7 linked regions of the Homo sapiens genome follow. The protein of the gene in region 4 purifies or fractionates together with the protein of the main gene of each other region. This does not show direct contact. Each region holds a gene or a part of one and is shown on either strand. Other genes may lie near its edges.

The links.
Region 1: the proteins of SCARB2 (region 4) and CAPZA1 purify together in Homo sapiens (affinity purification with mass spectrometry; one large-scale study listed by BioGRID and IntAct). This does not show direct contact.
Region 2: the proteins of SCARB2 (region 4) and SMU1 purify together in Homo sapiens (affinity purification with mass spectrometry; one large-scale study listed by BioGRID and IntAct). This does not show direct contact.
Region 3: the proteins of SCARB2 (region 4) and ITM2C purify together in Homo sapiens (co-immunoprecipitation; one large-scale study listed by IntAct). This does not show direct contact.
Region 5: the proteins of SCARB2 (region 4) and INF2 purify together in Homo sapiens (affinity purification with mass spectrometry; one large-scale study listed by BioGRID and IntAct). This does not show direct contact.
Region 6: the proteins of SCARB2 (region 4) and DDX23 purify together in Homo sapiens (affinity purification with mass spectrometry; one large-scale study listed by BioGRID and IntAct). This does not show direct contact.
Region 7: the proteins of SCARB2 (region 4) and NOL6 purify together in Homo sapiens (affinity purification with mass spectrometry; one large-scale study listed by BioGRID and IntAct). This does not show direct contact.

The regions. Positions count from the first base shown.
Region 1 is NC_000001.11:112,654,332-112,657,831, reverse strand, and holds part of CAPZA1 (F-actin-capping protein subunit alpha-1), read right to left. Parts: intron 3,368-3,500; coding exon 3,161-3,367; intron 1-3,160. UniProt on the Homo sapiens protein: F-actin-capping proteins bind in a Ca(2+)-independent manner to the fast growing ends of actin filaments (barbed end) thereby blocking the exchange of subunits at these ends.
Region 2 is NC_000009.12:33,052,675-33,056,174, forward strand, and holds part of SMU1 (WD40 repeat-containing protein SMU1), read right to left. Parts: coding exon 3,439-3,500; intron 617-3,438; coding exon 449-616; intron 1-448. UniProt on the Homo sapiens protein: Involved in pre-mRNA splicing as a component of the spliceosome. Regulates alternative splicing of the HSPG2 pre-mRNA. Required for normal accumulation of IK.
Region 3 is NC_000002.12:230,874,942-230,877,344, reverse strand, and holds part of ITM2C (integral membrane protein 2C), read right to left. Parts: intron 1,726-2,403; coding exon 1,537-1,725; intron 489-1,536; coding exon 378-488; intron 1-377. UniProt on the Homo sapiens protein: Negative regulator of amyloid-beta peptide production. May inhibit the processing of APP by blocking its access to alpha- and beta-secretase.
Region 4 is NC_000004.12:76,175,825-76,179,324, reverse strand, and holds part of SCARB2 (lysosome membrane protein 2), read left to right. Parts: intron 1-2,796; coding exon 2,797-2,888; intron 2,889-3,414; coding exon 3,415-3,500.
Region 5 is NC_000014.9:104,696,118-104,699,617, reverse strand, and holds part of INF2 (inverted formin-2), read right to left. Parts: intron 1-3,500.
Region 6 is NC_000012.12:48,845,664-48,849,163, forward strand, and holds part of DDX23 (probable ATP-dependent RNA helicase DDX23), read right to left. Parts: intron 120-3,500; coding exon 1-119. UniProt on the Homo sapiens protein: Involved in pre-mRNA splicing and its phosphorylated form (by SRPK2) is required for spliceosomal B complex formation.
Region 7 is NC_000009.12:33,460,853-33,463,924, reverse strand, and holds the end of NOL6 (nucleolar protein 6), read left to right. Parts: intron 1-4; coding exon 5-94; intron 95-483; coding exon 484-678; intron 679-790; coding exon 791-892; intron 893-1,111; coding exon 1,112-1,261; 3' UTR 1,262-2,572; downstream 2,573-3,072. UniProt on the Homo sapiens protein: Part of the small subunit (SSU) processome, first precursor of the small eukaryotic ribosomal subunit.

The sequences.
Region 1 (3,500 bases), on a different chromosome or scaffold from region 4:
TTACCTGAGGTCAGGAGTTCAAGACCAGCCCGGCCAACATGGTGAAACCCCATCTCTACTAAAAATACAAAAATTAGCCAGGTGTGGTGGTGGGCACCTGTAATCCCAACTACTAGAGAGGCTGAGGCAGGAAAATCGCTTGAACCTGAGAGGCGGAGGTTGCAGTGAGCTGAGATCATGCCACTGTACGCCAGCCTGGGCAAAAAGAGCAAAACTCCATCTCTAAAAAAAAAAAAGAATTAGGGGTTGCTGACAGCAGCCTAAGTAAAAGATAATTTCTAGAAGTGGTTGATTGGCTTCAGTGTGAAATGCCATTCGGAAGTCATGGACAAGGAAAAGGACACTGGACCAGGTAACTCAGGAACCATTAGTAAACTCAGAGCAGTTTCTGTAGAATGGAGACTAAAGTAAAAAATTAAAGGGTTCAGAAGTAGATAGAGGAAATGGCATTAGCAGGCAAAGAATATGTACTGACGTGGTGGTGATGCAGAGAGAGATGAGAGAAGGGAAAAAGTGGAGAAGAGGGAGAAAGGGCAAGGTGGAAAGGGCAGACAAAGAAGGAGAAATAGGCCGGGCCTGGTGGCTCATGCCTTGTAGTCCCTACACACACACAACACACACAGAGAAAAATTAGATAGGTATGGTGGTGTGCACCTGTGGTCCTAGCTACTTGGGAAGCTGAGGCGAACGGATTACAAGGTCAGGAGTTCAAGACCAGCCTGGCCAACACAGTGAAACCCCGTCTCTACTAAAAATACAAAAATTAGCCAGGTGTGGTGGCAGGCGCCTGTAATTCCAGCTACTCAGGAGGCTGAGGCAGGAGAATCGCTTGAACCCAGGAAGGGGAGGTTGCAGTGAGCCGAGACCACACCATTGCACTCCAGCTTGGAAGACAGAGTGAGACTCTGTCTCAAAAAAAAAAAAAAAAAATTTCTGTCAGTTTCAATCCTTACAAAACATGGGGGATTAGATGCCTGTCAGAGGACAATGAAAAATGTTTGGAACATACTATGTAGAAAATGTGATAGGGAATAAGGAGATGAAATTACGGACTACTAAGCAGGTCAGCTGAAGACATAAGACATAGGATACTTATATACAGCAGACACCATCACAACAATTCCATGACTTTCTGTAGGTCATTTGATAGCTAAGGACACAGTAGGGTTATTTGGTGCTGGAGCTCTCCAAATTAAGAATGGGTAGTGACAAACTTTGAACAGGTAACAAACAATAAATTCAAAGTATATTTAGGATTAAACAGTCAATTTCTAAATGGGAGTCTATCATGTCTCCCCTTTGCAATACTGGCTTCCCAACAGGAATTCTATACTTGTCCAGTCCACCATAATGGGTATTCTCATTAAAAAAAAAAAAAAAAAAAAAAAAAATCAAACATAATGACACCTAGCCTAACATTCATCTAACATTTATGTAGAGCTTACTTTGTGCCAGGCACTGTTCCAGGCATATATTACATATATTACTAATTCATTAAATCTTCACAACAACTCTATGAGATAAAAACAATTATTTCCATTTTACAGTCAAAGAATTGAGGCACAGAGATGTTAAGTAATTTACCTAAGGTCACACAACTAATTAATTGGCAGGGCCAGGAATCAAACCAGTTAGTAAGGCTTCAAAGTAGGTGCTCTTAACTGTATTCTAGACTGCCATGTAATTCATCATCATTGTATATTTAAAATATTCTAGTGAAAATTGCTGATTTTCCCACAACAAAAAAATGATAAATATGTATAGAAATCCATGTTATTAGCTCAATATAGCCATTCCACAATGTATACATATTTCAAAATATCATGTTGTACATATCATATTTTTGTCAATTTAAAAATAAAAAATATTCTAATCAATATTTTTCTTAATATGCCATAATTTTATAAAGGAAAAATAATAAAGCCAAATTTATCTATTTTTACAGTCAAGAGGGAGTAAAAGAAAATTAGGCCAGGTGCAGCAGCTCACGCCTGTAATCCCAGCACTTTGGGAGTCCGAGGCAGCTGGATCACCTGATGTTAGGAGTTCGAGACCAGCCTGGCCAACATGGTGAAGCTCTGTCTCTACTAAAAATATAAAAATTAGCCAGGTGTGGTGGTGGGCACCCGTAATCCCAGCTACTCAGGAAGCTGAGGCAGGAGAATTGCTTGAACCCAGGAGATGGAGGTGACATTGAGCTGACACGGTGCCCCTGCATTCTAGCCTGGGTGACAGAGTAAGACTTAGTCTCAAAAAACAAAAGAACAACAACAACAACAGCAAAAACAACAACAAAAAGAAAATCACTCCTGATTAAAAAAAAATTGTTTGGTTTTTTTTGTTTTTTGTTTTTTTGAGACAGTGTCTCACTCTGTTGCCCAGGCTGGAATGCAGTGGTGTGGTCTCAGCTCACTGCAACCTCCACCTCCCTGGTTCAAGTGATTCTTGTGCCTCAGCCTCCTGAGTAGCTGAAACTACAGGTGTGCACCACCACATCCAGCTACTTTTTGTATTTTTTAAGTAAAGGTTTCACCATGTTGGCCAGGCTGGTCTCGAACTCCTGGCCTCAAGTGATCTGCCCACCTTGGCCTCCCAAAGTGCTGGGATTACAGGCATGAGCCACCATGTCCAGCCAATTGTTTAGTTCTAATAGTTTTGATTACTGAATATAAACATCTAAACTATGTAGAAGTAGTTTGTGTAAAAATGCCTATATCAAAAAGCCATAAATATGAGCAAAAGCTCTCTCAACAATCTTAGTATACCATTTTTTTCTCCATGTCCAAACCAAAGACCTTTTAGATCTGGGTAAAAATACAAACAAAAAAAAATTAATTTAAAAGGTTAATTTAAAAAAAAGAAAGAAAAAAAGAAAAACCAAAGACCTTTTTCTGATGGGTGTAAGGCATTTTTCATAAGTCAAATGTGAAAACAGAATACACTGATACCTAAATTTTTTGTGCATTGGGATTTTAAAAAGAAATTTTCCATATAAAAATTTCATTTATACCCCTTTCCAAAATGATTTAGGGAATAAAATGCAGAGGAGAAGAGAGCATGGCTAAGAAGAAAGTAGGGATGTTTGGTAGGCCAAAGCCTCCAAAGGATAAGGTAAATATAAGAAAACACTCTCTGATAACGAAGCAGTCAGATACTTAACAGTACAGAAGCCGTTGGAATAATGGTCTTTCACATAGGCTCTTAAAGCACTGTCACAGGATTCTCTCCAAGACTTCAGACCTCCATCTGCTTCTTCTGGCTGGGGGTCACTTGCTTCTTTCCGTAAGTGGTCAAATTTAAAGGAAATTTTGTTTCTTGGATCTAAAAATCTGCTATTACCCAGGTCACCGTGCTCTGTAATTAAGACCTTCCAAAGAATCATTAAACATATGAGTAACTGTAAAAAAGACAATTCTTACTGCCTTTTATGAAACACATCAATAAAAATTCTGAGGCAGTTAACTTTTCATTTAGTCAGATTTCTTTCATATTAATTTTTC
Region 2 (3,500 bases), on a different chromosome or scaffold from region 4:
AGAACCTTGCAGGTTTTCTGATTAAAAATACACCGAGGACACTGCTGCTGCCTTTCTCCTATTAGTGTTCCACTTTAGATCGTGGTAGCTGGGAGATGTCCTGAGTTGGTAATCCATACTACACTGTATCCCCCTAACTCAGACAAACACTGTTATCTTAAAATCTTCAGTGAGGTTCTGAAGGAGGCTTAAAGACAGATAGGAGCTTCCTTTATCCGAAGGATGAAAGTGCTTAATATACAAACATCCAGGGGAAAGGAGATCACTTTTGAAATACCAAACAGATGTTTTATGGAGCTATAAATAAATCTGAAAAACAAATACAGCTTAAACGGTTTACAGAGAAATGAACCCAAATTTGGTTATTGGGAGGGTGGGCCTGGACCAGGAAGTGCTGATTTGGGAATGGCCCACAGTTCCTGTGCAAGGGTACGTTCTGAACACTCACCTGCCCCTGCATGTTCATGATGACCACCGTGTTTGATCTGTTGCACACCACAAAGTGCTCAGGGTTTTTAGGAAGTAGAATCACACTGTTGACGGTAATATCTGTCCCTGCGGTGCTGCCCAGGGATTTAAAGGTATTTGAACATTCTGTGGTCTTCATATTCCAGATCTACCACACAGAAATTTAAGTTATAAACCTTTTTTAGGTATAAAAATTTCTAAAGTTTTAGGGTTTAAAATATTAACAGTTTACTAAAAAAGAATAGAAATGATTCAGGGGAAAAAAGTTTCTTACTTGATTTTAGGTCCAATCAAATACCCAGCACTGCCATATACAGTTTTCCTTCGGTATCTGTGAGGAATTGGTTCCAGGATCCCCTTTAGATACCAAAATCCAAGGATACTCAAGTCCCACACATAAAATGATGTATTTGCATATAACCTATGCACATCCTCCTGTATGCTTTAAATCATCTCTAGATTACTTATAATATCTAATACAATGCCCGCACACCACTTCCTTTGTAAGGATTCAATGTAGTACTTGGCATGGGGCAGATTTAAGTTTTGCTTTTTAGAATTTTGTGGAATTTTCTTTTTTTTCCCCAAATATTTTCAATTTGTGATTGGTTGAATCCATGTTCCGGATACAGAGGACCAACTGTAATAGAGTAAGCATTCATCATGTATTTGTTGATTTATTGGCAAAGCCAAAGTCACAAACTAAAACTTAAAAACTTTTAAAAATCTATGATCTTTTCTCATACATTTTTCCTTAGCCAATAGAGCTCTCTCTCTTTAAAATTAGTTGTTTGTCAACACTGCTACTGTCATAAACAACCAGAAAGCTACCCTTGTCTGGATATCAAAACCAAACAGGGGGTCGGCCATGGTGGCTCACGCCTGTAATGTCAGCACTTTGGGAAGCCAAGGCGGGTGGATCACTTGAGGCCAGGAGTTCAAGACCAGCCTGGGCAATATAGTGCGATCTTGTCTCTATGTAAAATAATTAAAATAAAATACAAACAAACAAAACAAAAACCGCTTTTCTTTTCTTTTTTTTTTTTTTTAAAGAGATGAGATCTCGCTATTTTGCCCTATTGCCTCTGCTGGCGTTAAACTCCTGAGTTCAAGCGATCCTCTCACTTCAGCCTTCTGAGTACGGGACTACAGGCAGGTGCCAATAAGCCTGGCTCAAATAGAGGCTTTTTAGCTTGAGACTCTATCCTGAGATTTTGATGTGGTAGGTCTAGGGTGAGGCATAGGCATTTTTTAAAAAGCTACAAATGATTCCAATGTACAGTTTATACTGACAATGACTGAACAGAAGTCACAATGTTAGCACACACACATGAGGAACTTTGAAGTGGAAGCTACTCTTGGCCACTTGCATTACTTTTCCCGGTCTATCTTTTCACCTTATCCTTCTGGGTTCTATGAACTGAAAGGGTTAAATCAGGTAGCACAGAAATCTGAGATGTGCTTAGAGAAGGGATGGATCAAACATTAAATAGCATTGTCCTGATACCACTCAATTCATCAGGTACAAAGTCTCTAAGGCATGGACTCTGCTGTGTTTCCTCTGTGCCTTCCATGGAGCTTAGCAGAAAGCAGATGTTGAATAAATACCCATAAACAGGAGAAAACAGTTGCCCTGGTGTCAACACTGTTATTGCCTGCCCTAATCTCCTCTGAAGCCCAGTTGCTTAGAAGAAAAAATGAACATTTCAGGAATTAAGAACGCTAAGGCTTCCAGTGTTTTCCATTCAAAAGGTCAGTGACACGCTTTGCCCCACTCACTGCAGAACTAAGGGGGAAAGACCACAAAATAAGGAACCTTAGATAAGCCATCTTCCAGTGGCATTTACAAGTTGTGAGGCCCATATGCATAGCATGAGAGCAAATCCCATGACTGAAGTACTAACAGCTCTGTGTGATTTCCCCATACATCCCAAGGGAGCATACATCTCCTGCCTTCGGGTTTCCAGTTCGATTTCCAATCATGAACAGCAATTTCAGACGGTGGTCTGACATATATACATATATATATATACATACATTTATTGATTGACTGAGACAGGTTCTTGCTCTGTTGCCCAGGCTGAAGTACAGTGGTGAGAAAATTGCTCAATGCAGCCTCAAACTCCTGGGTTCGAGTGATCCTTTCACCTCAGCCTCCCAAGTAGCTAGGAATACAGGTATACGCCACCACCCCTGGCTGTCTGAATTTTAGATACTTAAATATGTATCTAAAATATCTAGATATTTGTATTAAAATGTTTTATTAAAATGTCTAGATCTTCTGCCACAAAGTACTCACTCATATAAGACAATTCAAAAAGATTAGGTCCGGAATGTAAATAGTGTCTCAAAGATCTCTAATAATTTTCTATTTGGGTTTCTCATATCTTTTCTAGGAAATGAGAACCTCTCTTCAAATAACTAAATCTTTAAAGGTACTGAAGATCCATTACTTTCAGCAAATTACTTATTAAATAACTATCTAGGAGAAGGCTTAGTTTTACTCAACACCTCTCCTATTCCTCTATAAATGCTACTAGGAAGGCCCTAAATCTGGGGACCAGGAGTGCAGTGAGGCTGTGCAACAAAAAAGAGATCTATTTATTAGGCCACTGAGACTTTCGTGAATTTGACTGTTAGCAGGTGGACCATACCTATGGCAAAACAGATTTAACCACCATGTGTATCTGTGAATGGGGGATGGCTTAAGTTTAGGACTCTTCACCCTTCCTCTTTTCCTACACATGATAAAGTTTGTTTGGATTGAAAAGGTTTGAGATTGGGGTCCCAAGGCCAATGGGAATTACCCACAGAATACTGTTGTTGTCTCAGACTCACCTCAATTACAGCTAAAATAGCCAGGAAAGAGGTTTACTACAGCACAATCATTCCCATTATCACCACTGAAAACTCCTCAAAGGACAAAGATGGGGTAGACATCCCAAAATAAACTGATAGCAAATACTTAACCTTTACAGTGCCATCAGAGGATGCACTAATAATGTAATGTCCATCTTGTGTAAATGTTGCTT
Region 3 (2,403 bases), on a different chromosome or scaffold from region 4:
CCTCGCCCGAAATGCCAGCCCACCTCCCTCCTCCAGAGGCCCCTGGGCTGGCCCTTCTGATGTCCTCAGGCACTTCCTGCCTGTGCCCGGTGCCTGCACCTGTGCTGCCAGGAGCAATGGCATGCGCACGAGTCCGTACCCAGGGTACAACCTTGAACACTAAGGAAGCCGGTCTCGGGGCATTGACTCTGGAGATGTGGAAGCAGGGGGATAGCAGAGGCGAGACCAATCTGGGTACAGGGCCCAGGTGCCAGCAATGTCTCTTGCTCCCCCAACCCCTGACACAGGAACTTCCTGTACCTCAGACCTAGCCTCCATGAGACAGGGGGCAAGGGAGGGACAGGATGCTGCAGACATCCCCCCAACCCCCTGCGCACCTTCACGTTCATGAGGAGCTCCCAGAAGTTGCGAGGGGGCAGCACAATGGTGGTGTTGAGTTCGATGACATAGCACTTGTCCAGGGAGATATCATGGTACGCAGTCAGACCCTGGCAGGAGAAGGGGTTGGGTCAGTCTCTGCAGGAGGTGACAGCTGACCCAGGCAGGGCTGCAAGAAGCTTTGGCCAGCCAGGCGCGGTGGCTCATGCCTGTAATCCCAGCACTTTGGGAGGCTGAGGCGGGCGGATCAAAGGTCAGGAGATCGAGACCATCCTGACTAACATGGTGAAACCCCGTCTCTACTAAAAATACAAAAAATTTGCCAGGCGTGGTGGTGGGCACCTGTAGTCCCAGCTACTCGGGGGGCTGAGGCGGGAGAATGGTGTGAACCCAGGAGGCGGAGCTTGCAGTGAGCCGAGATCGTGCCACTGCACTCCAGCCTGGGCGACAGAGCGAGACTCTGTCTCCAAAAAAAAAAGCAGCTTGGCCAGCAGGGGCAGGAGTCCCACCATGCCTTCCTGGGACCCTGGGCCTTCAGGAGCAGAGTCCTCTCCAGACTCCTCAATACCTGGGCGGGCACTCCCTTTTCCTGGTCTTCTCTTAGCCTGTTGTAGAAGGTGCCACATGATAGAGGAAAATAGCAGCTGATTGCTAAACGCCTCTGTTGTTATAAAGCTTCTTCTCATGTTTACAGAGCTGAGGTTTGGGGAACATGGTAACATCCCAGCTGTGCATTTATGAAACCTGTGAGGGCCAGCCATTCCTGGGACAGCCTGGACCCCAGCGAGAGATGCCCTGTCTCAGGACCCATGGGGGTTACATGAATACGCATGAGACCCACTCTGCAGAGACCCGCTGAGCTGTACACGCAATGCACTCGATGGTGAATGTACTACCCCTCGATACAACGCACTGGCCCTGCCATGACAGCCAGCGTGCAGCTGGCAGGAGGCTGAGGAGAAAATCAGCCTCGGCTGCTTCATACTCAGCAAGAACCATTGTTGCTAACAGGAGAAAAGCAGTGTCTTGAAGACCCTGGTAAGCCTAACCGTAGACACCTGCTGTACTCCGAGGAGTCTCCTTTCATCCCTGCTCCCCTTGCCCTGAGTCCCCGGGACACCCTCCCACCCCCCACCCCCAGGCCCTGGCCAGCCTCACCCGCTGGAAGTCATGGATGATGTCTGCAGGGTCACCGCCGCCAAACTGGGGCACAGGCACGTTGATGCGCTCGTAGTTCTCGTCGAGGTAGATTTTCACATCCTCTTCCAGCTCCATCTGAGTCCGGACCTGGGAGGACAGGGAGTCCTCATACAGCACACCACAGCGGAAGAAGTTATCTCGGGCCAGCTGAGCAAGGCGGAGAGACAGACAGACAGTCAGAGAGGCTGGTCATACACGCACTCCGTAAGGCCCCCTCTTGCCTACCCGTCCGCTACATGCCCCAAAAGCCTGCGGAAGCAAGAAGAGCAGGGACTGTGAGACCCATTTCGCAGATGGAGAAACTGAGACGGTGGGGCATCAGGTCAGGGTCTGGGGCTGCCAGTGAGGAGATGAGCTGATTCTTGGGCAAGGCGCTTCCCAGCTTCACAAACGGAAGGGAGGATGAGCTGGGTCTGCCAGGTTCTAGGTGGCAGACCTCTCTGGGCCTCAGTTTCCCCATCAGTAAAGCATGATGATCCCTAAGGTCCCTTCTGGCCTCCAAGTCCTTGAGTCGGTGACTGGGAAAAGGGGTGGCCCAGCAGGACTAGGACCTGGCCACCTCCGTGCCCTCCACAGAGGTGCAGACACCAGAGAAAGAGCCTGGGGTTGGCAGGGGGTCAAGGACGAACCTAAGAGTTGGGCACCTACGCCTGTGCACGACTGCCTTTCCTGTCACCTGCTGTCCTGGCCTGCAGACCTGGAGGGGCCTAACACGGCGGGTGGGGAGGTGGAGCTGGAGGCAACACTGTTAAGAGTCTTGTGCCCCTATCACGGTTACCTCCACATCCAGCCTCGGACAAGTGCCATCGCCCTTCCTGGATATCC
Region 4 (3,500 bases):
TCCAGGACTTTGGGAGACCGAGGTGGGTGGATCATTTGAGGTTAAGACTTTGAGACCAGCCTGGCCAACATGGCAAAACTCTATCTCTACTAAAAATACAAAAATTAGCCAGCTGTGGTGATGTACACCTGTAATCTCACCTACTCAGGAGACTGAGGCAGGTAAGTTGCATGAACCCAGGAGGCAGAGGTTGCAGTGAGCTGAAATTACACCACTGTACTCCAGCCAGGGTGACAGAGCAAGACTCTGTCTAAAAAAGCCAAAAAAAAAACAAAAACAAAAACAAAAACAAAAACCCTGGAGTGCAGTGGATAGTTGGGAAGTTGGTAAAAGATAAAATAACCCCAGGAAGAGGATTAGATTAGGGGTGTGCTCTGGGATTGTGATGGGTCTCCTCAGCTTTAAATTTGTAGCTGTTTTCTGGCTCTGCCTGTTCAAGAGTCTTACCCTCTTCATGTAATCCTGTAGCATTCCAGTTTTTATGGCAAACAGCAATAATTGTGTCCCTGGGCCTTCAAGGTTATATAAAACGTAGAAATTGTTAAAATAGAATTGTGAGCAAGTTTTAAAAAATTATATGTGTGAGAGACAGGAGTCCTAAAAGTAGGGCCTCACCAACTCTGAATGCATCATTCGGGAGAAGCAGACCAGGCAGGAGTTCCCTAGAGGGTCCTGTCTCAGAGGAATACAGCTTCACAGGACCAGAGGAAGCACAGATTTCCTGTCAAGCCCTGACTGAACCTCCCTTCTAGAAATAATTTCAGGAGAGCCTCCTACTGAGAGATATTATGCAAAGGTTCCCTCGAGGCCCTTTTGTTCCCAGTGGCTTCAATCCATCAGCCAAGTAGATCTTGTTGCTAATATCTCACTGTTTCTCAGATAATTTGCATTATATAACTCACTTTTTTTGTTTTTACATCATTGAATTCACCAGACTGATAGCCACACTATCTTATGTGGTTGTGAGGATTTCATGAGATGATTCATGCAAAAATTTTAGAACAGAGCCAGGAATATTATACTCAACAATTGTTCACTCCTATTATTATAGAGGAGCTACTACCTGTGCTATTTCTGAGAAATCATAGCTACATGCCCAAATAAAGAATTTTAGGAATGTAGTGTCTGTATGTGCCCTTAAGAAGTATAACTTGGAGAGAATATACAATTGAAGAAACCTTAATTGAAAATAGGGCTATATTAATACCGTCTTCTTCCAGTGTAGCTATTCTGGTATAATTGGTCCTGGTCCTGGACTTAGGCTTTTAAATTTGTTATTATTGAGAAATAATTCACTTACTATAACATTTACCATTTTAAAATGTACAATTCAGTAGTCCTTAGTATAGTCACAAGGTTGTGCAACCATTACTGCTAATTCCAGAACATTTTCATTATCCCAAAAAAGAAACTGCATACTCTCTTAGCAGTCACTCCTATTCCTGTCTTACTCTCCCAGGCCCTGGCAACCACTAATCTACTTTCTGGCTCTGTGAATTTGCATATTCTGGACATCTCATATAAATGGAGTCATATAATATATGCCCTTCTGTGTCTGCTTTTTAAATTTAGTGTAATGTTGTCAGGGTTCATCCATGTTGTAGCATGTATCAGTGTTCCATTCCTTTTTATAACTGAGGAATATTCCGTTGTGTAGATATACCACATTTTGCTTATCCATTTATCAGTTGATGGACATTTGGGTTGTGTTCCTTCTTGGCTATTATTAGAAGTGCTGCTATGAATATTTGTTCATACAAGCTTTTATATGAACATTGGGTATATACCTTGAAGTGGAATTCTCTTGAGTATATACATAGGTGTGGAATTTTGGAGTCCTATGAATTCTGTTTAACTTTGTTAAGAACTGACAAACTGTTTTCTGCAGTGACTGCAACATTTTTATATTCCTGCTAGCAATGTATAAAGGTTCCAATTTCTCCACATCCTCACCAACGCTTACTATTTTTCTTTTTTTTTTTTTTAATTGCCCTCCTAGTGGGTGTGAAGTGGTATCTCATTGTGGTTTTGATTTGCATTTCCCTAATGACTAATGATGCTGAACATGTTTTTATGTGCTCTCTGGCCATTAGTATATTTTCTTTTCAGAAATGTCTCTTCAAATCCTTTGCCCATTTTAAAATTGAGCTCCTACTTTTTAAAACCATAAAATAATAATATGGTTAATATAGTATTTAGCAAAATAGTCACTATTTTCTGGTCCTGGTTCAGTCTTGTGTAGCAGTTAGGCCCTAGTAGGACAGTTAGATGAAGATTAAATTTTTTAGTTACTGTATCAGTTAGGGTTGCCAGAGAAACTGAATCAAGAGGGTGTATATGTAGAGATGAGAAAGAGGGAGAGAAAGAAATTTATATTATGGAATTGGCTTATGTGATTATGGGAGCTGGTAAGTCTGAAATCCATAGAGCAGGCCAGCAGCTGGAAACTCAGGTAAAAGTTGATGATGTGGTCTTGAGTTTGAAATCTGTAGGGTGGGCTGCAACCTGGAAATCCAGGCAGAATTTCGATGTTGCAGTCTTGAGGAGAATTCCTCCTCTAAGAAACCTCTGTTTTTGCTTGTAAGGCTTTGAACAGATTGGAGGGGGCCCAGCCACTCATTATTGAGGGTAACCTCCCTTAAAGTTAACGGATTGTAGATATTAATCACACCTACAAAATACCTTCACCACACCATCTGGGCTAGTGTTTGACCAAACAACTGGGCACCATAGTCTAGCCAAGTTGTCATAAAATTATCACAGTTACTTTAAATGATCATATTCACATATTTTCAGAAAAATGGGACTAATGATGGAGACTATGTTTTTCTAACTGGAGAAGACAGTTACCTTAACTTTACAAAAATTGTGGAATGGAATGGGAAAACGTAAGTCAAATGATTTATCAGTGGAATTATTTTTTCAGTTTTCATTTAAACTACATGTCTACTTCTACATTGCTTAAAAATGTGTTTAGCCTTTTTTGGATGAAAAATATAAAAACATGTAAATAGTCTTGTAATTATTATTCTACAAATCAAGATGGTGGTAAAACATCTTACAGATTAAATATTAGTGATTTGTAGATTTATCATGGCCAGGCATGAATTACAGGCCAGTGAAAAGTCCCACTCTTGCTTAGTAGTCATTGAGTGATGTGTAGTAGCTACAGCACAAATACTTTTCAAACCACCACATGTTTTGGGCTATTTGGCCATTGCCTCTATGAAAGCTGATTTGGGCCAGGGACCTACTTTTTCTCCCCCTTGATCTAATTAAAACTGTTGTGTCTGTGTATGAATAAGATACTGTGGATAGACAGCTCCAGTTAAATCTTGCAAAGTCCTGACCATTTAAGAGAATCTAAACTCAAATGTGATCATCTTTACTCTTTCTTGTGCTTATCAATTATAGGTCACTTGACTGGTGGATAACAGACAAGTGCAATATGATTAATGGAACAGATGGAGATTCTTTTCACCCACTAATAACCAAAGATG
Region 5 (3,500 bases), on a different chromosome or scaffold from region 4:
CCAGTGGCCGTCCACTCACCCAGATGCGCAAGACCTTCCGGCCACCTCTGCCCACCCACTCTGGGCCCTGTCCTGGGCTGCTCCTCACGCTCCCCTGGCTTCTCATCGCTGCTGACCGCTGAGCTGCCAGAGACAGCCGGGTCCCTCCCAGGCAGCCTCAGGTCCCCAACGCCCCTCCTGGTGGCAGTAGGGTTGCTCCCACCACCATGAAGAGCCAGGCAGCCGGGCCTCTGCATATATTCCCACCCGCCTTGGCTGTTGCTGCCTAAAGAGGCCCCAGAACTGACCCTCCTTTCCTCCCCCGCCTCCATTGGCCGGAGTCCCTGTCCCCTTGGCACAGGCTGAGTGGACGGAGTTATGAACTCTCCCAGGCCCGGCCCCTGGCATCCAGAGTGTCCTCTCCAGCCAAGAGCCCCGGGGGTCCCTCCATGCAAAAAATCCTGACCTTTTAGAGACAAGCAGTGCCGCCGAGAGCCACCGTGCCCCAGGCCCCAGGGTGTCCCTGGACACAGAAGATGCTCCCTGACCTGAGTACTGCCCCTCTTGGCACTGCCCAGCGCTCCTTGCCCTGTGCAAGCCCCTGAAAGACCCCAGTCAAGAGGATCCCCCTTGGTCAGTGGGGTGGAGCCACGGTGGGAGGAAACTGGCCCTCCTGCCCATCAGGTTCCTATACCCCCGTGCCTGGGTGCCTGGCTCTGTGTCTGAGCTGCCCCAGCTGGCCGTGTCCCACCGGGTGCTGTCTGGGGGCAGTGAGTGTAACAGGGTCTCGCTGGGCTGCGGCCCGGCATAGACAGGGCTCCGGCTGAGGCCCCGGAGGCTGAGGCCGGAGCTGCTCTCCTCCTTCTGTGGTGCTGCCAAGGCTGCCCGATCTCACCCAGGCCCCCCGTCAGGCTCTACACCGGAGAATGTTCCAACTGCTTTTCAGCATGAGGCTGAACCTGCAAACACACCACGGCCAGACCATATATGCAGCACTCTGACCCGCAATCTGGCCACTGGCCCCAAATGGCTGGGACCTGGGTAATAACTGACAGCTTCTGTGATTTTTGTCTCATCTCATAGGAGCCCAAATTCCAGCCAGCAGCCTCTCTCAGGGCATCCCCGAGCCTTCCCTGTGTCTATAAAAAGCTTTCTATGTATAGAGTGAATTATCCATATGAGAAAACCATGAGGCTTCCCACTCCCCCGCCCGCCTGTGAGTCTCTGCTAAACGCGGGTGGCGGTGGCCGACTCCCTGCTACAGCGAGCTCTGCAAAAACAGCCTTGCCTGTTCTCACTGGGGGGTGGTGTCCACTTCTGCAAGGATTCCAGAAGGAATCCACAGTTTACTGATCTCAGGGGCACGGGGCTATGGGGAACAATACGCTGGAAGGTGCCAGTGCCAACTGAGAAGGGAAGGGGGCGGGAGTCTCATTGCTGAGCTGTGTGCCCCTGGGCAGGCTACCCTTCCCCTCTGCTCTCCATCTGGAAAGTGGGTTGGCGGGGCCACCAGCGCAGGAATGTGTCCTCAGAGCTCCCCAGCCCCGGCTGTAGGGCGTGGCCACCTCCCCACAGGCACAGGAATTTGCGTTCTTCGCAATCTTTTCTACAGCCGGCACCAGCTCTGGCTGAGGCAGGGCAGGACCATCCAGGCTCTGCAGGGCCCAGTACCCATGGCTCAGGCCAGACCCCATGCCTTGGACAGCAAAAGGGTCAGGGCACCAAGAAGGGGCGTCCCATCCACCCCCCCCGGCAGTCCACCAGCACCAATGGAACTGCACAGGGCAGGGTCTTTTGCAGATGAAGACTCTGAGGTCTGAGGGGCTCACCCCACCCATGCTAGTGGGACATCACCATGGTTCTTCAGCACTTGCTTTTGTCAACCAATAGCCTGGGGCTTCCAGAGGACGGGGCCATGCCTCTCCCCTGACTCTAGCTCTGGCAGGCAGGGTCCCCCTCTGGGCCTGGGCCTGGCCAGCCTGGTGTGGTGATGCCAGCACCTCCATCCGAATGCCTACATGCTAGGGCAGCTGCACTGACTCTCGGGAAGCCACCGGGCCACCGCCCCGCCTAGCAGTCAACAGTCAAGCTGAGTGTGTGGTGTGGGTGGGGACAGGGCCATGCTGGCCTTCACTAGACCTGCAGCCATGTGCCTAGCCCCTGCGGTGCAGACAGAAAACCAGAGCCAGGGAGTGTGGGCTCCTGAGGCAGGCCCAGCACCGAGCTGTGGAGAGTAGCTGGGGGCTCCTGCATGGGCCCATGGTTCTGAGCGGCACACAGGCCAGGGTTAGGGTACCCAGACTTGAATCCCAGCACGCGAGGGACCTGAGCCAGCCACTGAAGCCCCCAGGCCTCGGCTCCCTCACTTGCCTCCCAGGAGCCAGGCGAGGAGGGCCTTCCACAGCACAGTGTGGGAGCTCCTATGCCCTCGGCCAGCACCAATGGGCCTGGAGGCCCCCGCTGTGACATGTTCTGAGTCTGCCTGGGACAGCCCCCTCCCCTGTGAAGTCCCCACTGGTAGGGAAGGGAGAGGTCTGCCTGGGTCCAGGCTCCCCACGAGGAACAGGCCAAGCCCTGAGCCTGGCAGCCCTGGGGTGGCAGGTACTGCCTACTGTGCCTGGGACCAAGGGGCTCTGGGGACCCTGAAGCAGTGGCGGGGGTAGGGCAGGCACTGGCTGGGCACATGAGCACCTGTGGGGGGCTGCTGCCTGGGAGTGGGCAGGCAGCTGTGGTGTCGCCCTTCTGGCACTGGCACAGGGCTGGGTGCTTCTGGGCCCTGAGCCAGCGTTGGTGGTGGGGGTGCAGGGAGGGAGCTTGTCTTCCACGGGGTGGGTGGGCAGAACGGCAGGAGAGGATTCCGGAACTAGGAGGCAGGGGCTGCCACACTGTATTTTTAGCTCCTCCGAGAGCCCCAATTTTTCCACTGCTTGGCAACCCATGGATCTCCAGGACTGCACGCGTTCCTGGCAGCACCCCGGGGTTCTGGGCAGCCCAGGCCCTGCAGGGCGGTGGAGGCACCTGGAGCTGAACCTGCCCTACCATGACCCCCATTCCCCTCCCTCACACTCAGACTCCCAGCTCCTTTGAGCCTCCAGCATGTGTCACCTTCCCCACCAGGCCAACAGCCCCTTGAGGGACCTCTACTGACCTGGTGGCTCACCAACTGCCGGCAAGGCCCAGGGAGGGTCTGTGCACAGGGGGCCTCAAGGCAGGTGAGGATGGGGGTCCACCCACTGCCACGTGTCCAGGGGCATGGGGCGCACTGGGCCTTGGTGAGGGCTGGCTGTGTCCTCACTGTCACCTGGCCCGTCTCACACCCAAGAAGCACTCCAGCCCTCATGCCACCTGCAGTCCCCAAGATCTGGATGGAGTGCAAGGCTCCTGCCTCCAAAGCCCTCCAAGATCTTGAACTCCGCTTGTTGTGCAAAGAGGGCCCCCGGGCCACTGTGAGGACCCACAGCAGGACAGAAGGGCCCCCTGGGAGCAGGTGGGCAGAAAGGCGCTCTCAGCAGCATCATGAT
Region 6 (3,500 bases), on a different chromosome or scaffold from region 4:
GGGGAAGACTTCCGGTCCCGGTCTCTATCCCGCTCTCTGTCAGGAGTCCGTGATCGCTTCCTTTCCTCCTTGGAAGGTGATGCATCACGGTCCTTTTTGTCAGCCAGCTCTCCTGCCATCTGTAATGAGTAGGAAGAGTACTTACAATGTACTAGGCACTGCTCTAAACTGCTTATATATAATTCAATTACCCTCAAAACAACCCTATGAGGTGGATATATTAGTATGTCTACCGTACAGATGAGAACGGTGGAGCTCAGGTATATAAAGGAACTTGTCTGAGGGCAGACAGGTAGTGGCAGAGTTGCAGGCAGTCTGGCTCCACAGGCCATCGTTACTCACTATATTGTCTCCCTGTAATTCCTTTCAGAGTCTCACTCTGTCACCCAGGCTGGAGTGCAGTGGTGCAATCATAGGTCACTGCAGCTTCAACTTCCTGGGCTCAAGCCATCCTCCTGCCTTGCCTAGCTAATTTATTTTTTTTATAGACAGGGTCTCACTATGCTGCCCAGGCTGGTCTTAAATTCCTGACCTCAAGCAATCCTCCTGCCTCAGCCTCTAAAAGGCTGAGATTACAGGCGTGAGCCACAGTGCCTGGTCGATTCCTTTTTATATATTCATTTCTAAATATGTACAGTGAATATACCATGTTTTTGTAATTAGACTACAAAAGAGTATTAAAAGAAGTGTTAGTGTATGAACAGTGTACCAACTATTTCTAGAAACATCCTATATTGCTTACTTTGAAGTTTATTAGGTCTGCCAACCCACTAGGATCAGTTAGCACTCATACGTCTGAGAGAGATAAATTTTCTTGAGCTCATAAAGAAAGCTCAATGGAGAAAAAAGTTTAACTTTGAGATCTGGATTACGTTATAATTAGCACCACAAGGAAAACCTGAATTTAAGTGGAGAAACACACTTTTACTCAGATTAAAAGAAATGTACCTCTAATTATGCAATGGGAAGAACTTGGTGAAGGGTACACAGAACCTCTATACACATTTTTTAACTTCCTGTGAAACTATAATTATTTCAAAGATATATATTTTAAATACCCAAAACTAGAGGTTGCAGAAGTCCTGATTGACATTCCCTATTCAGATTTTCACAACCTTGGTCATCTGCATAACCCAGTTTTGTGAAAGGTTTCAGCAGGAATTTTTTCTGTCTCCCTCCTACCTGGGAGACACCGAACACCACTCCCACACTGTCAACTCTTCTTTGGGCTATGAACTCTAGTTCAGCCAGGAGCTAAAACTGCAGCAAGCCTGAATCTGCAACCACCTCATCATCATCCCAAAGACTTGGGATACATTTCTCGCAACTTATTTTATCCCCAAATGGTTCAGCTCGAATGGTTCCTTAAGCTTTAGCTTACAAGCCCCTTTCTCATGCCATTCCCTGCCATATATCCTTAAGAAAGATTGTATAAAGATGAGAAAAGAAAAATGAACAAGAAGCACTTTCAAAAGGTGAGGACAACCCATTTTATCTCACAATCACCTGAGAAATGACTGATTGTTCTGTATCAGTACATCATGGCTATCACACAGAAATACCTATGTCTTGGGCTGGGCATGGTGGCTCACCGTGTAATCCTAGCACTTTTGGAGGCCAAAGCGGGCAGATCATGAGGTCAGGAGATTGAGACCATCCTGGCCAACACGGTGAAACCCCATCTCTACTAAAAATACAAAAATTAGCCAGGCATGGTGGCACGTGCCTGTAGTCCCAGCTACTCAGGAGGCTGACGCAGGAGAATCACTTGAACCCAGGAGGCGGAGGTTGCAGTGAGCCAAGATCATACCACTGCACTCCAGCCTGGCAGCAGAGCGTGATCCGTTTCAAAAAAAAAAAAAAAGAAAGAAATACCTATGTCTTGACTGGGTGTGGTGGCTCATGCCTGTAATCTCAGCACTTTGGGAGGCTGAGGTGGGTGGATCGCTTGTCCAGGAGTTCGAGACCAACCTGGGCAATATGGCAAAAACCCATCTCTACTAAAAATATAAAAAATTAGCCACGCATGGTGGTACACGCTACCCAGGAGGCTGAGGTGGAAGGACTGCTTGAGCCCGGGAGGCAGAGGCTGCAGTAAGCCGAGATTGTGCCACTGCACCCCAGTCTGGGTGACAGGGCAAAACCCTGTCACACACCAAAAAATAAAAAATAAAAAAAACACTTACAGCCCTAAGAAAACAATCCCAAAGGAAGGCTATTTTCTCTGTACAGCATCCTGGATTTCATTCATTCTTTCAACAAATATTCACCGAGCACCTACAAGGTGCCAGAAATTGTTGTAGGTAACGGAGACAAAGCAGTAAAGAAAACAAAGTCTCATGCTGGGCGTGGTGGCTCACGCCTATAATCCCAGCACTTTGGGAGGCTGAGGCGGGCAGATCAAGAGGTCAGGAGATCAAGACCATCCTGGCTAACAGGGTGAAACCCCGTCTCCACTAAAAATACAAAAAAATTAGCCGGGCGTGGTGGTGGGCGCCTGTAGTCCCACCTACTCGGGAGGCTGAGGCAGGAGAATGGCGTGAACCCGGGAGGCAGAGCTTGCAGTGAGCCGAGATCATGCCACTGCACTCCAGCCTGGGTGACAGAGTGAGACTCCGTCTCAAAAACAAAACAAAACAAAAAACAAAAAAAAAAAGAAAACAAAGTCTCCTACTTCATAAAGCTTAAATTCTAGTGTAGCGGAAAGGATTTTAAATAGTAATGAATGCTAATGAAGAAAATAAAACAGTGATATGATGGGTAGGGGTATAACAAGAGATAGATGGCTCAGGGAAGAAGTTTTAGTTGACATTTAAGCTGAGACTTGAATGATGGGAAAGAGGGCCATGAAAAGATCAGGGTAAAAAACCCTTGTTAGATACAAGAAATGTGAACTAGCTTAGCATGTTTGTCAGGTTTGTTTTGTTGTTGTTGTTGTTGAGACAGGGTCTCACCCTCTCACGCAAGATGGAGGGCAGTGGCACAATCACGGCACACTGCAGCCTTGACTTCCCAGGCTCAAGCGATCCTCCTGCCTAGGCCTCCCAAGTAGCTGGGACTATAGGCGCATGCCACCACACCTGACTAATTTTTTTTTTTTTTTTTTGAGATGGAGTCTTGCTCTGTCGCCCAGGCTGGAGTGCAATGGCATGATCTTGGCTCACTACAACCTCCACCTCCCAGGTTCAAGTGATTCTCCTGCCTCAGCCTCCTGAGTAGTTGGGATTACAGGCGCGTGCCACACCACGCCTGGCTAATTTTTGTATTTTTAGTAGAGGCGGGGTTTCACCATGTTGGCCAGGCTGGTCTCAAACTCCTGACCTCAGGTGATCCGCCCTGAGTGCCCAAAGTGCTGGGATAACAAGCATGAGCCACCATGCCCGGCCCCAACTAATTCTTAAAATTTTTATTAGAGACAAGGTCTCAATTTGTTGCCCAGGCTAGTCTTGAACTCCTGGGCTCAAGGGATCCTTCGGCCTCAGCCTCCCAAAGTGCTGGTA
Region 7 (3,072 bases), on a different chromosome or scaffold from region 4:
GCAGATCCTGCAGCAGCTTGTGGTCCTGGCAGCTGAAGCCCTGCCCATGTTAGAGAAGCAGCTCATGGATCCCCGGGGACCTGGGGACATCAGGGTAAGCTTCTGACCAGCAGTGACTCCAGGGCCTCTGGGGATTCTGTCTTTGGAAGTTCAGCGTTCAGGGATCTCACAGGAGACCCGGTCCCCTTGTTTGGTGAGACTGAACAGAGGAGGTGTTGAAGCTGCTGTGGTGCCTGGGGTGGCAGAGCCTGGGGAACCTGGGTTCCATCTGGGTCTCCTGTTTCTAGCCTGTGCTCCTTCTGCCGGGCTATGCAACAGCTGTTTGCTCTGTGGGTCTTGGTGCTTCAGTCTTCAAATGGGCAGGTGGGCCCATAGAGGGTGGTCAGATGGAAGGAGGAAACCAAGGTGGGCGTGTGGAGAGGTTTGTGGTCCAGTTCCTCAGTCAAGGGGGTCCTGCTGACCCCTCCTTCTCCCCTTCCTTAGACAGTGTTCCGGCCGCCCTTGGACATTTACGACGTGCTGATTCGCCTGTCTCCTCGCCATATCCCGCGGCACCGCCAGGCTGTGGACTCGCCAGCTGCCTCCTTCTGCCGGGGCCTGCTCAGCCAGCCGGGGCCCTCATCCCTGATGCCCGTGCTGGGCTATGATCCTCCTCAGCTCTATCTGACGCAGCTCAGGGTTGGTCCTAAACAGCTGAATGACCTGGGGAGGGGACTTCCAGGTGAAGCTGAGGCTGTGGAGGAGCTCTTAAATGCCTGCCTATAATCTTCTCTGTTCTGTCCCTTTCTAGGAGGCCTTTGGGGATCTGGCCCTTTTCTTCTATGACCAGCATGGTGGAGAGGTGATTGGTGTCCTCTGGAAGCCCACCAGCTTCCAGCCGCAGCCCTTCAAGGTGTGCTGGCTGGTGACAGCTGTGTTCCTGAGTGTGTGCACGTGGTTCTGTGTGGGCATGCATGTCTGTGTGTAGTCTGTCCTATGGGCAAACCCGTGTCAGGTGCGGAGTGTATGGGCTTGTGTTTCTATCCCCACCACCCCCACTCTGTACCCAGCTTGGTGTCTCTGGGTGTGCCGCTGTGACACTCAACCCACATCTCTTCTCTGATTTCCCCAGGCCTCCAGCACAAAGGGGCGCATGGTGATGTCTCGAGGTGGGGAGCTAGTAATGGTGCCCAATGTTGAAGCAATCCTGGAGGACTTTGCTGTGCTGGGTGAAGGCCTGGTGCAGACTGTGGAGGCCCGAAGTGAGAGGTGGACTGTGTGATCCCAGCTCTGGAGCAAGCTGTAGACGGACAGCAGGACATTGGACCTCTAGAGCAAGATGTCAGTAGGATGACCTCCACCCTCCTTGGACATGAATCCTCCATGGAGGGCCTGCTGGCTGAACATGCTGAATCATCTCCAACAAAACCCAGCCCCAACTTTCTCTCTGATGCTCCAGCATTGGGGCAGGGGCATGGTGGCCCATGTAGTCTCCTGGGCCTCACCATCCCAGAAGAGGAGTGGGAGCCAGCTCAGAGAAGGAACTGAACCCAGGAGATCCATCCACCTATTAGCCCTGGGCCTGGACCTCCCTGCGATTTCCCACTCCTTTCTTAGTCTTCTTCCAGAAACAGAGAAGGGGATGTGTGCCTGGGAGAGGCTCTGTCTCCTTCCTGCTGCCAGGACCTGTGCCTAGACTTAGCATGCCCTTCACTGCAGTGTCAGGCCTTTAGATGGGACCCAGCGAAAATGTGGCCCTTCTGAGTCACATCACCGACACTGAGCAGTGGAAAGGGGCTATATGTGTATGAATAGACCACATTGAAGGAGCACAATGCCCTCCTGTGTTGATGCCACTTCCCAGGGTGGAGACAGTGGAAAAGAACCGAGGACAGGAAAGGATTGGGTAGGTGAAGGGGTCAGGGGACTGGTAGTCACCCAATCTTGGAGAGGTGCAAAAAGCACTGGGGGCTACCCGTTAGCTGCATCTGCCCTGGCTGTTTGCCCGTTCATGTCACAAACTGCCACTACTATGTACCTGCAGTGGGGTTGCAGAGATGGGGGAGACTCAAGTCTTACTCCCCAGGAGCTCCCAGGGCCCAAGGAGGAGAATGCTGCCTCCTTTCAGTCTGGTCTACACCCACTTTCTGGTAGCCTCTCTGCTTCCTGTAATTCTGGCTGTTTTTCCAGACTCAGCTCAAATAGTGCCCCTCCTTAAGCCCATCCCTCGCCCCCAGCCTGAGGTGATCTTTCCCTCCTCTGAACTATTAGAGCAGTTACTGTCTGTTCAGTTCGTTTGGCAGGCACACACAGTGGCATAAATTCTATTGTTTTGAACTCTGATTTAAAATTAAATTGCAGCTGGGCGTGGTGGCTTATGCTTGTAATCCCAACACTTAGGGAGTCAGGAGAATCACTTGAGCTCAGGAGTTCTAGACCAATCTGGGCAACAGAGAGACCCCATCTCTTTTAAATAAAAAGTTAAATTGCTTAATTTCCCCCGTATTCCTGGCCTGTCTGCCCCTTTCACATAATTTTAACCTGGTTTCTTGTATGTAAACTCCTTGAGGGCAAGAACATGTTTGAACATAGACTTCTTCGTGTCCTTCCTAGCACCTATTACAGTGCTTTGCTCAGGGGCCATCCAGCACAGGCAGATGGGGGGCAGAGAAGCCCACTGGAAGATTGCAGAGTAAAGGGAATCCATTTGTGAAATCTGCCTGCAAGAAGTGGGTGGTGACGGTGAAAGAGAAAGCCTAAGAGATTATAGAGTTGACGTTTATTGAGGGCTTAATAGGTGCCAGGCGGGGTTAGGTGGTGGTATCCGTATCTTATGTGCGGAAACTTGTCGTACAGTCATAACGAGCCGTATGGAGTAGGTACTTTCATTTACCTTCATTTTCTGAGTGAGAGAACAGGCTCAGCGCAGGGGCCCGTTGTGTGAGGAACTTTGATGCCTGGCTAGCAAGCTCCATCCTCAAGATGAGAAGCTGCATGTGGGAACTCTGGCCTCCAGTTCTGTCTCAACTGTTGGTCTTTGTGAATCACTGCTTGCCTCTACTGTCACTGCCATGGAGCAGCTCAGCCCAGGGT